Homo sapiens: one gene and its partner. The protein of the gene in region 1 purifies or fractionates together with the protein of each later gene. This does not show direct contact. Each region holds a gene or a part of one and is shown in the gene's direction. Other genes may lie near its edges.

Region 1 (7,032 bases):
TTGATAAGTTAAAGGATGCACGTTGTTACTCCTAGCAATCACTTAAAGAACAATAACAAAGAAGTAGTATAACTAGGAAGCCAATAGATGATATAAAATGGAACACTAAAAAATATTTGATTAACCGAAGAGAAAGCACAACAGGAACAACAGAGGAACATAGCAAGAGAAGGAGCAAGTAGGAAACAAATAGCAAGGTGGTAGATATAAACCTAGCCAAAGCAATAATGACATTAAATGTAATTGGTCTAAAAACATCAAGTAAAAGGCACAGAGATCATATTTTCCTGCCTGTAGTCTTCCACGCTTCGTTGTATTCTTAACTTAAACATTTATTACTTTCTTTAGGAAGCCTTTTCTCACCCAAGATCTAGTCCTGTGGGCACAAATAGCATTCTTTATTTCTCCTATCATTATATTATTCCGTTGTGTTGTAAGCATTTATCTCTCTCCTGTATATTTTAAGTTCTTTTCTGTCTGTAAGATCTTTGAAGAAGGGAATATCTCTAGTTTTTTACAACTGTGCTTTTAGCAATTAACAGTATCTGATGCATCTAAGTTCTCAATAAATACTTGTTAAATGAATGAATATATGAGTAAACAGCTTAATAAATCAGTAAGAAATATTTTAAAAAGACTATATGCTTATATGTGGGAATGTTTATAATTGTGCAGAAAAGGAGGGAAAGAGTTTTAAAAGCTATCAGAAAATTAAAAAAATCAAAAAGCATTCTTTTTTAATCTAATGAGTAATTTTTCATTTATCTTCCATAGACCTGAATTGGTAGTTAAGAAGTTACGATATTATGCAAGATTTATAGTAGTTTGTCTTCTTCTCAACAAAATGGATGTTGTAAAGGATCTGGTAAAGGTAAATACACTTTAAATAGTTCAAATTCTAATCTCTAGTTGTATATGGATGATCTTATTTTTAAAAAACAGATTTTAGGTTAAAATAATTTTGATATATCAATAATTACAATATTCAAAGTATAGTAACTTCTGACAAGGGTAATGATAAAAAAATTTTCCAACTCTTTTCATGTTACAAATACACTAATCTGAGATAATTATCTTGATTCCTTGCTTTTGTCCTTTCTGCATGTTTTACATTTCAAAGCCCATCAGTGGATGGCTGGGAATGCAAACAAACAAAAATTCTTAGTTTAAGAGAAAATAATTGAAATGTTATGTGAAGAAAAAGTACATAATGCTTTACAAAGGCCTTGCAAATGATTTTCATTTTCCCACCACTTTAGAGTGTCTGCATAAAGTCTCTCCTTCATTAACTGAGGTGATTAAGAGTTAACTGTCTTCAGACCCACTTAATACCTGTAATCATTGCATATTAAATTCTGATTGCATTCTGTATTCAATAGTTTCAATGGCATACTTAATTTTGTATCAAGTATAACATGCCAGTTGGTTTTTTGGGTTTTGTGGGGTTTTTTTTTTTTCTTTTTTTTTTTTTGAGACAAGGTCTCGCTCTGTCATCCAGCTGGAGTACAGTGGCATGATCTTGTCTCACTGCAACCTCTGCCTCCTGGGCTCAAGCAGTCCTCCCACCTTAGCCTCCTGAGTAGCTGGAATCATAGGCTCAAGCCACCACTCCTAGCTAATTTTTGTGTTTTTTGTAGAGACAGGGTTTCACCATGTTGCCCAGGCTGGTCTGAAACTCATGAGTTCAAGCAATCCGCCAGCCTCTGCCTCCCGAAGTGCTGGGATTACAGGCATGAGCCACCGTGCCCAGCTCAACATGCCAGTTTTGACAAGGCCACCAGAAGTAGCTCTCTGTTCTCCTTTTCTACCTTCCTTTATACCCAGTTACCATTAAAAATATTTCCAAAAACCATATAATACAAATCCAAATAAAGTCAGGAAGTATTTTTAGAAATATATAATTTTTTGTAGTGGTAGGGTCTCACTATGTTGCCTAGGCTGCTCTCGAAATCTTGGCCTCAAATGATCCTCCCACCTCGACCTCCCAAAGGGCTGGGATTACAGGTATGAGATACTGCATCCAGCCTCATTTTTTTTTATTGTTAAAATTTTTGAATTTCTCTTTTCTGATTCTTTCATTAATGAATTCATTGCTCATGTAGTACTGATAGGAAGTAGATCTCTGTAAAGACTTTATTTGATGGGTGTTATTCTGAAGTTTGTACTTTTGAAGAAAATTTATTAGTTTTCATCTTTGTTTTTTGTTATAATCAGGACTGTGTATTGCTAATAATCAAATTTTGTAAGTATGTCGGTTTCTGTCAGGAATATGGTTCTATATGGCTGTGTGTTTTTATGGGTTTTTTAATAACCTTTTTTGTGATGTTTTTAAAATCAGGAATTGTCAGATGAAATTGAAGATTATACTCACCGATTTAATACTGAAGATCAAGTGGAATGGAACTTGGTGCTTCAAGAAGTAGCAGCTTTCATTGAGGTCAGTTTTTGATAAGAAAAATCATAATTATTGATAAATAAATGACCGTGTAGTTTATGTTTTTATTGTGTGTATATGTCAAGAAGAAGGAATAGCTTACTCTATTGATATTTAGTCTTGGCCATTCGTTAAGTTCTTATTGCTTTTTTCTTTAGGCGGATCCTGTAATGGTATTAAATGATGATAATACCATTGTTATCACATCGAATCGCCTTGCTGAAACAGGAGCCCCATTGCTGGAACAGGGCATGATTGTGGGACAGTTGTCTCTGGCTGACGCACTCATTATTGGTAATTGTAATAATCAGGTAAAGAATTGTGAAGGAATTATGCTTAAAATTCACTGTGAAAAATAGTGCTATTGATGATCACAGAATTATTTTCTTATAAATATCCTAACATCCTCTTGTGAGGAAATTGCTGATTAAATTATGCTGTGTGCATATATGGAATATATTACAGATATTTAAATAGCTTAGAAAGAATTTTTAATAACATAGAAAGATACTCGTGATACAGTAAATGAAAATAAACTTGCCATGGAGCCAGGAAGCAGAATTATTTCATATATGTTAGAATGTCTATATGTATGCACACAGGAAAAAGACGAGGAAGAAATGTTACAACTATCTAAGTTTTATCTCCAAATAACCAAATTATAGGGGATTTTTATTTTATTTTTTACAACATTCTAAAGTTTCCAAAATTTCTGACCTGGCACAGTGGCTCACACCTGGAATCTCAGCACTTTGGGAAGCCCAGGTGGTTAGATCACTTGAGGTCAGGAGTTCAAGACCAGCCTGGCCAACATGACGAAGCCCCATCTCTACTACAGAATGCAAAAATTAGCCAGCCATGGTGGCATGCTCCTGTAATCCCAGCTACTCAGGAGGCTGAGGCAAGAGAATCACTTGAACCTGGGAGGCGGAGGTTGGAGTGAGCCAAGATCACACCACTGTACTCCAGCCTGGGTGACAGAGCGAGACTCTGTCTCAAAAATTAATAATAATAATAAAGTTTCCAAAATGTATATGTCCTACTTTCCAATCAAGCAAAAAGGGGCGAGGAGTTGGTGTTTTTTGTGTTTTGTTTTTTTTTGAGACAGAGTCTTGCTTTGTCACTCAGGTGGGAGTGCAGTGTCATGATTTTGGCTCACTGCAACCTCCATCTCCCAGGTTCAAGCGATTCTCCTGCCTCTCAGCCTCCCAAGTAGCTGGGATTACAGGCACATACCACCACACCCGGCTAATTTTTGTATATTTAGTAGAGATGGCATCATCATGTTGGCCAGGCTGGTCTTGAACTCCTGACCTCAAGTGATCCTCCTGCCTCAGCCTCCCAAAGTGTTGGGATTACAGGTGTGAGCCACCGCACTTGGCCAGGAGTTGTTTTTGGGTAAATTTGTCAAAAGTGAATTTCAAATGTTTTTTCATGACAGAGTAGCACCATGATGATGAGATTTAATGTACTAGAAATGAAATTTACTGGAAATTACACCAGTGAATACATTTTTCTAGATGTGTTTTTTATACAAGTTTAATTTTGGATCCTATCCTAGCATCTATCAATCACTTTTGTTATTGTTAAATTTTTCTGGTATTTCTCCATTTTTGGCTTTTATGACCATTATTTTGCAAATGTCTACAACGTTTTTGAAATTATAGTATGAATATACTAAATGGAAATATTTTGAAACATTTATGGTTTGTATAGTTATACTATCTTAAGGCTCGGTATTTTTCTCACTTTTTTTTAATTCAAAGAAAATTTTTCTAATCAGAAAAATATAAATTAAAACCAAATGAGATATCACCGAACTAGATGACTAAAAACAAAAGAGACCAAGAAACTGATAATAGCATATCCTGGCAACTAGTACAAGAACTGAATATTTCATACTATGTAGAAATAGAAATTGATAGATTTACTTTAGAAAAGTGTCAGGCATTATCTAGTACAGCTCCATATGTGCACACTCTATGACCAAGCATTTCCAGTATTTTCTTATTGATCTGTAAGAGTTCTGAATATATTCTACATGAAAGTCCTTTGTCAGATTTATGTGTTGAACTATCTTCTCCTACTCTTGTCTTGCCTTTTACTCTCTTCTGATATCTTCTGTCTCTTTTTCTCCTTTTCTTTAAACATCTGTTAAAATATTTATTAGTATCTACGCTATGCCAGACGCCCCTGTTCCAGATACTGAGATTCCAGTGAACAGAAGTCCTTAATTTTAATGTAGTCTAATTTATAATTTTTTTCCTTTCTGGTATTAGCTTTTTTGTGTCCTATTTTGAGAAATCATTGCTTACCTTACCTTTCATATTTAGATCTATGATATCTTTGGGATTTATTTTAGTGTGAAGTATGGGTCAGATTTTCTTTCTGGATTTCCAGTAGACCTAGCACCATTTACTAAAAAGACCATCTTTTCCCTGCCACACTGCAGTGTCACTTTTATCATAAATCTGATGTTCAAATATATTTGAGTCTCATTCTGTTCCTTTGGTCTGTTTGTCTATTATGCTGATACTTCTGACTTCATTATTATGGCATTTTAATAGGCCTCGATATATTGTAGTAAATGAAATACTGATTTTTTCTAATTTTTTCTCTTACATTGATTCTGATTCTTATTTCCTTCTTCCTATTTTGAATTTAATTTGCTTAGATAACTGACATTTATTTATTTATTTATTTATTTATTTATTTATTTATTGAGACAGAGTCTTGCTCTGTCTCCTAGGCTGGAGTGCAGTGGTGCAATCTCAGCTCACTGCAACTTCTGCCTCCCAGGTTCAAGCGATTCTCCTGCCTCAGCCTTCCTAGTAGATGGGACTACAGGTGTGTGCCACCACGCCCGGTTAATTTTTTGTATTTTTTTTTTGTATTTATTATTTTATTTTATTTTATTTTATTTTATTTTATTATACTTTAAGTTTTAGGGTACATGTGCACAATGTTCAGGTTAGTTACATATGTATACATGTGCCATGCTGGTGTGCTGCACCCATTAACTCGTCTTTTAGCATTCGGTATATCTCCTAAAGCTATCCCTCCCCCCTCCCCCCGCCCCACAACAGTCCCCAAAGTGTGATGTTCCCCTTCCTGTGTCCATGTGTTCTCATTGTTCAGTTCCCACCTATGAGTGAGAAGATGCGGTGTTTGGTTTTTTGTTCTTGCGATAGTTTACTGAGAATGATGATTTCCAATTTCATCCATGTCCCTACAAAGGACATGAACTCATCCTTTTTTATGGCCGCATAGTATTCCATGGTGTATATGTGCCACATTTTCTTAATCCAGTCTATCATTGTTGGATATTTGGGTTGATTCCAAGTCTTTGCTATTGTGAATAGTGCTGCAGTAGACATACGTGTGCATGTGTCTTTATAGCAGCATGATTTATAGTCCATTGGGTATATACCCAGTAATGGGATGGCTGGGTCAAATGGTATTTCTAGTTCTAGATCCCTGAGGAATCGCCACACTGACTTCCACAATGGTTGAACTAGTTTACAGTCCCACCAATAGTGTAAAAGTGTTCCTATTTCTCCACATCCTCTCCAGCACCTGTTTCCTGACTTTTTAATGATTGCCATTCTAACTGGTGTGAGATGGTATCTCATTGTGGTTTTGATTTGCATTTCTCTGATGGCTAGTGATGGTGAGCATTTTTTCATGTGTTTTTTGGCTGCATAAATGTCTTCTTTTGAGAAGTGTCTGTTCATGTCCTTCACCCGCTTTTTGATGGGGTTGTTTGTTTTTTTCTTGTAAATTTGTTTGAGTTCATTGTAGATTCTGGATATTAGCCCTTTGTCAGATGAGTAGGTTGCGAACATTTTCTCCCATCTTGTAGGTTGCCTGTTCATTCTGATGGTAGTTTCTTTTGCTGTGCAGAAGCTCTTTAGTTTAATTAGATCCCATTTGTCAATTTTGTCTTTTGTTCCCATTGCTTTTGGTGTTTTAGACATGAAGTCCTTGCCCATGCCTACGTACTGAATGGTAATGCCTAGGTTTTCTTCTAGGGTTTTTATGGTTTTAGATCTAACATTTAAGTCTTTAATCCATCTTGAATTAATTTTTGTATAAGGTGTAAGGAAGGGATCCAGTTTCAGCTTTCTACATATGGCTAGCCAGTTTTCCCAGCACCATTTATTAAATAGGGAATCCTTTCCCCATTGCTTGTTTGTCTCAGGTTTGTCAAAGATCAGATAGTTGTAGATACGTGGCGTTATTTCTGAGGGCTCTGTTCTGTTCCATTGATCTATGTCTCTGTTTTGGTACCAGTACCATGCTGTTTTGGTTACTGTAGCCTTGTAGTATAGTTTGAAGTCAGGTAGCGTGATGCCTCCAGCTTTGTTGTTTTGGCTTAGGATTGACTTGGCGATGCGGGCTCTTTTTTGGTTCCATATGAACTTTAAAATAGTTTTTTCCAATTCTGTGAAGAAAGTCATTGGTAGCTTGATGGGGATGGCATTGAATCTATAAATTACCTTGGGCAGTATGGCCATTTTCATGTTATTGATTCTTCCTACCCATGAGCATGGAATGTTCTTTCATTTGTTTGTATCCTCTTTTATTTCATTGAGCAG
Region 2 (4,432 bases), on another chromosome or scaffold:
TCGGCCTCCCAAAGTGCTGGGATTACAGGCGTGAGTCACCCTGCCCGGCCTCATGCACTCTTTTTTGCCTTCTGCTCTACTGCCTTGTTTGACATTGGACCCTTTCAAGAGAGTAGAGACTAGAGAGTAGAGGTTAGACCTTAACTCATGCCCTGGCAGCCAGTGGGCATGAATACATGTTTGCTGTTCACTTAAATGAAAGCACAAATATATATTCCTTTTCCTTTTTGGAGGAGAGCAGCCCCCTCTGGACAACCTGATTTATATGTGCTCTGCAGCACTTTGAATCTCTGCTCAGCTGTCCCTCACTGCTGCCAGTGCCAGTCCCCCCCTTGACAGGCAGAGACCACTTAATGCCCTGGCACCTCAGATGGTGAAACCACCGGAGCATGAGGACTCAGAGGAATGTGGCTCTGCAGTTGTGTGTCACGGAGGCACTAAAAGGTGAAGTCTGCAGAACAGTGGTTGGTGTGCTGGGGGCCGGTGCGTGCTAGCCCTGGGTGTGCAGCAGTACCACATATAGGTTCCTGCCCTGGAGGAGCCAGGTCGGGATGACAAGGGTACCGTAGCTATGGTAACAGGGTGGTCTAAGGAGGTGTTCTGAAGGTGTGCAAGGCCGGAGCTGGACCTTGACATGCTGACCAGACTCAGGTCAGTCCCCGCTCTGTCACTCAGTCAGCGTACGTCTTGGCCCCAGCATGTGCTGGGTAGTGTTCAGCAGTGGTTGAAGAGCCACAGTCTCTCCTGCCACGACCAGGTTAGCTGCCTCCCCAGGACCTTCCGTGGCACAGCCCCTGTCTCCCTGCGTGGTAATTACCCTGGTTTGGGGTCTGCTTTGCTTTCCCCTCTATCTGTGAGCCTCTCAAAGACAGGAACCAGATCGGTCTTGGTCTCTGCTTTGTCCCCAGTGCCTAGCACTGGGCTGCCTGGCACGTTAGTGTCTGGTCCTGCTTTGTGGAGAGCTGAACCTGGTGAGGTCAGGGTTCCACACAGCCACAGCATTCTCCCCCACCTCCATGAGAGAACCCTGGGGCTTTTGGGCTTTGATTTCCCCCCTCCCCCGCTCCTTCCCATCCCGAAGATTCTGCCAAAGTCTCTGGCTGGCCAAGTCCTGAAAGCTGGGGAGGGTAGTGGGAGGAGGAAGGTGAGACGCGATGGGCGGCTTAGCAGAGGGTGAGAAAGCCTCCTGCTGCCTGGCCGCAGGCACCGCGGGAATGGTTCTGGCAGGAGCCGCCTGCTGGGCTGAGATCACCATGGAGACCTGGCTTAGAGAGGGTCACTGGCAGTGGCTAAGGGCCTGGGGTGGGGGTGGGGGTGCAGGGATTTGTGCAGAGGCTCCCAGCCTGCCCCGGGGCCCTTGGAGGGAGCAGGGGAGGCTGGCGTTGGACAATATCAGTTTGCCAGTGGTTTGGAGCAGCCCATCCTAAAGTCCCCTTCCCTTGTCACCCCCAACACCCCAACAGAGGTTCTTTAGCTTGGCAACTGTTCTTCAACCGCAATAGAGCAGTCCTCTGGATAGATGCCCCCAGCGCTCTGGCTCAAGCAGTTACCCCAGATAAAATCATTCTGCTCCCTAATAGACACCCCTCTTGTCTCTGCAGCCTGTTTACCGCCTGACTGTGGAGAGCTTGCATTCATCCCAGCAGCAGCCCTTGCCCCAAGAGCTGCTTTTCTACCTATCACCCCATTGCAGCACAGCTGTCACCCTCCCAGGCACACCGCTCGCCCCTACGGCTAGTATTCCATCCTCCTGCAACTGCAGGCAACCTGACAGCTTAACAAAGATGCAGCTCTTCTCCTCTCCTATGCCTCTGCCTGCCACCTGGTCTGGTCCACCAGGATGAGGTGCTGCCCTGCCTCTGCAGGAGCCCACCTGGTTCCCCTGGACCTTGGGGGAGTCCTGGCAAGTCCAGCCTCAGGACAAAAGTCGTCCCCGGGGCTGACTGCCCAGCAGACAGCAGCCGAGGCTGAGCAGAATTTAAATGTGGCTCTGGTAGAAAGGGAAGCCAAGAAAGTACAAGGGAGGAGAGGCTTTCTGCCGCCGCCTGATTCCTGCTGGTGTGGGGGAGGACGGATGGGCTCCTAAGGAACCTGAGGAGGCCCTTTCAGCATCCTCACCTCGCCCTTTAATTCGGATGGAGATGGTCGCACACTGAGGGTGGGAGATGTGTGTCTCGGGGCTCTGAGAGGAGGACAGAAGTCTGAAAGGACCAGGCTAATAATGACTGGAGCTCTTAGGAAGTCCCGAGCCCATCCCTGTCCTTCAGGGGACCTTCTCACTCACCCTAGCAGAGCTGTGAATCCAGGGGGTCTAGCCAAGCTGGGGGTCTGGGTAGGGAAGTCAGATCCCCAGGGCCCCGCAAGCATAATGAGAACTGTCTGGGAAAAAGGGGTACTTCCAATCTCGAGTGTCTGGCGATGGGAGGAACTGGGAACTTGGGAGTGTCTGAGCTTCAGGAAGGCAGGGTTAAGCCAAACACAGATGGCATTGTGTTGGGCAGTTTCTCTGTTCTTTCACTGAGAAAGACTTCCTCCTCACCTCACCTCTCTAAGGAACAGAATGGCATTGGTAAGAAGAGGATTGGATTTAGAAGAAATAAAAGCAGTTGTTCACACCTGTGCTGTGTGCTGAGGCCCTGCCCTCCCCATGATGTCATTCCTCAGAACAGCCTAAGTTGGAGGAATTACTAAACTCATCATGACATGAGGAGGCAGGTTTGGAGAGCCTAACTGCCCCAGAAAAATAATAATGAATAATAATCAGTATAATTTATTATGCACTTAAGGACCAGGCTTCATCTGTCCTATACCGCTGAATCCTCCCAGCAAACCAATGGGGTAGTTCAGTTATCTTCTTTTTACAGATGGGCAAACTGAGGCTCACAGAAGTTCAACAACATGCCCAAGGTCATAGCACTACTAAAGGGTGGCACTGGTATTTGAACTCAGCTGTGTCTGATTCCAGAGCCCAAGCTCTTAACAAATTCCACTGCCTGGAACCCCACCTCCTCACCCAGCACCTGCTTCACCCTGTGTTTTGGGGCTTGGACACGCATATTTTACAGATGGGGAAACTGGGCTCAGAGAAGGCAGGTCTGAGTTTTTGTGAGAAAGAACAGTGGTTAGCTTTCCCCCTCACCCTGCTGAATCCTGGGAGGAGCTGGGTGGGGGTCTCCCTCTTCACTTCCCTGATCTCAGAGCACAGTCGATGCGTGCCGCTCACTCCTGCCTCTTCTCTTGTGTTTCTTTGCAGCTTTCAGAAAACCAACGCCAAGATCCCTCCCAGCGTCCACATCGTCCTCTGGCAGGAGCTCCTGCCCCTCTGCCTCCCACCCTGCCCCCTACACCCCCTGCAGACCCATCTCCCTCCACCCCCTCCCACCCATCTCCTCCACGCAGAAGCCGAAGGTGAGCCCTTTCTGCACAAAACCAGCAATTGTAAATACTTTTTAAAAATGTACAAAACTTAAAAACAAAACACAGTTTTAGAAAAAGACAAAAAAAAAAAAGAGAGAGAGAGAGCGAGAGAGCGAGCGTGTGCAAGAGGTTGCGAGCGGGGCCCCGAGGTGTCCAGAGCCCCTGCAAGTATGCACTGAGAAATTTATCTACAGGTCGTTTGACAAAAATGAACAATATCCTATTTATTGTATATACTGTTTTATTATAAATCGTGGATTGTATATTGCATTCTGTAAACCTGCTGTGGTCCCGTGGTGTGCAAATTCGCATGGTGGGGGGGAGGGAGAAGAACCTCTTGCGGGAGCTTTTTTTTTCTTTCTTATTTTTCACTCTTTTGGGTTTTCTCTTCTGTTGTTGTTGTTGTTGTTTTCTGTTGGCAGGACACACCCAAAGATCCAAGTTTGTATTAAAAAGAAATGAAAAAAAGCAAAAAAAAAACAAAAAAAAAACAAAAAAAAAAAACCAACCTTGTGTCTTGTGAAAGGGGGAGTGAGGGTGGAGGGAATGGAAGGGACACCGCTGGGTTTTGTCACCAGCTACTGGTTCTCCAGAGGAGTTGAAATACCTACACGTGTTCCTGGCCACTGAGTTTTCCCTTCTGCCTGAGATCTGGGTTCCCCCTCATTTCACTCCAGGCCCTGCGTCTCCCCTGCCTCTGAGCTCCCCACTCTGCTGCCGAGGACATCCTGGCCCTTGATCATGCGTTCAGTCCCAGGTCCAGGGATTCTGCCTCTTGGACCTCCATTTTGTCCTAGGTCCTGGGTCTCCTCTGACTCTCCCTATATTCTATCCCAAGTCCAAGGTCTCCCCAAATGCTGGGTTTCCTCTCCCTGAGGAACCTCCATCATGGGGCTCCTGCTTCTGGACCCCCTTATTCCATCCAAGGTCCCAGGTCTCTGCCTCGAGTCCCTTTGTGTGTCCTGTGTATTCATGGCCTTTGGGCCTCACAGTTCTACTCTGGTTCAGGGACATC

What was found. Proteins that work in one complex are often made in the same cells at the same time.
Region 2: the proteins of SCAI (region 1) and AHDC1 purify together in Homo sapiens (affinity purification with mass spectrometry; 2 studies listed by BioGRID). This does not show direct contact.

Annotation. Positions count from the first base shown.
Region 1 is NC_000009.12:125,014,512-125,021,543, reverse strand, and holds part of SCAI (protein SCAI), read left to right. Parts: intron 1-774; coding exon 775-871; intron 872-2,338; coding exon 2,339-2,437; intron 2,438-2,592; coding exon 2,593-2,745; intron 2,746-7,032. UniProt on the Homo sapiens protein: Tumor suppressor which functions to suppress MRTFA-induced SRF transcriptional activity. May function in the RHOA-DIAPH1 signal transduction pathway and regulate cell migration through transcriptional regulation of ITGB1.
Region 2 is NC_000001.11:27,533,738-27,538,169, reverse strand, and holds the end of AHDC1 (transcription factor Gibbin), read left to right. Parts: intron 1-3,253; 3' UTR 3,254-3,925; downstream 3,926-4,432. UniProt on the Homo sapiens protein: Transcription factor required for the proper patterning of the epidermis, which plays a key role in early epithelial morphogenesis. Directly binds promoter and enhancer regions and acts by maintaining local enhancer-promoter chromatin architecture.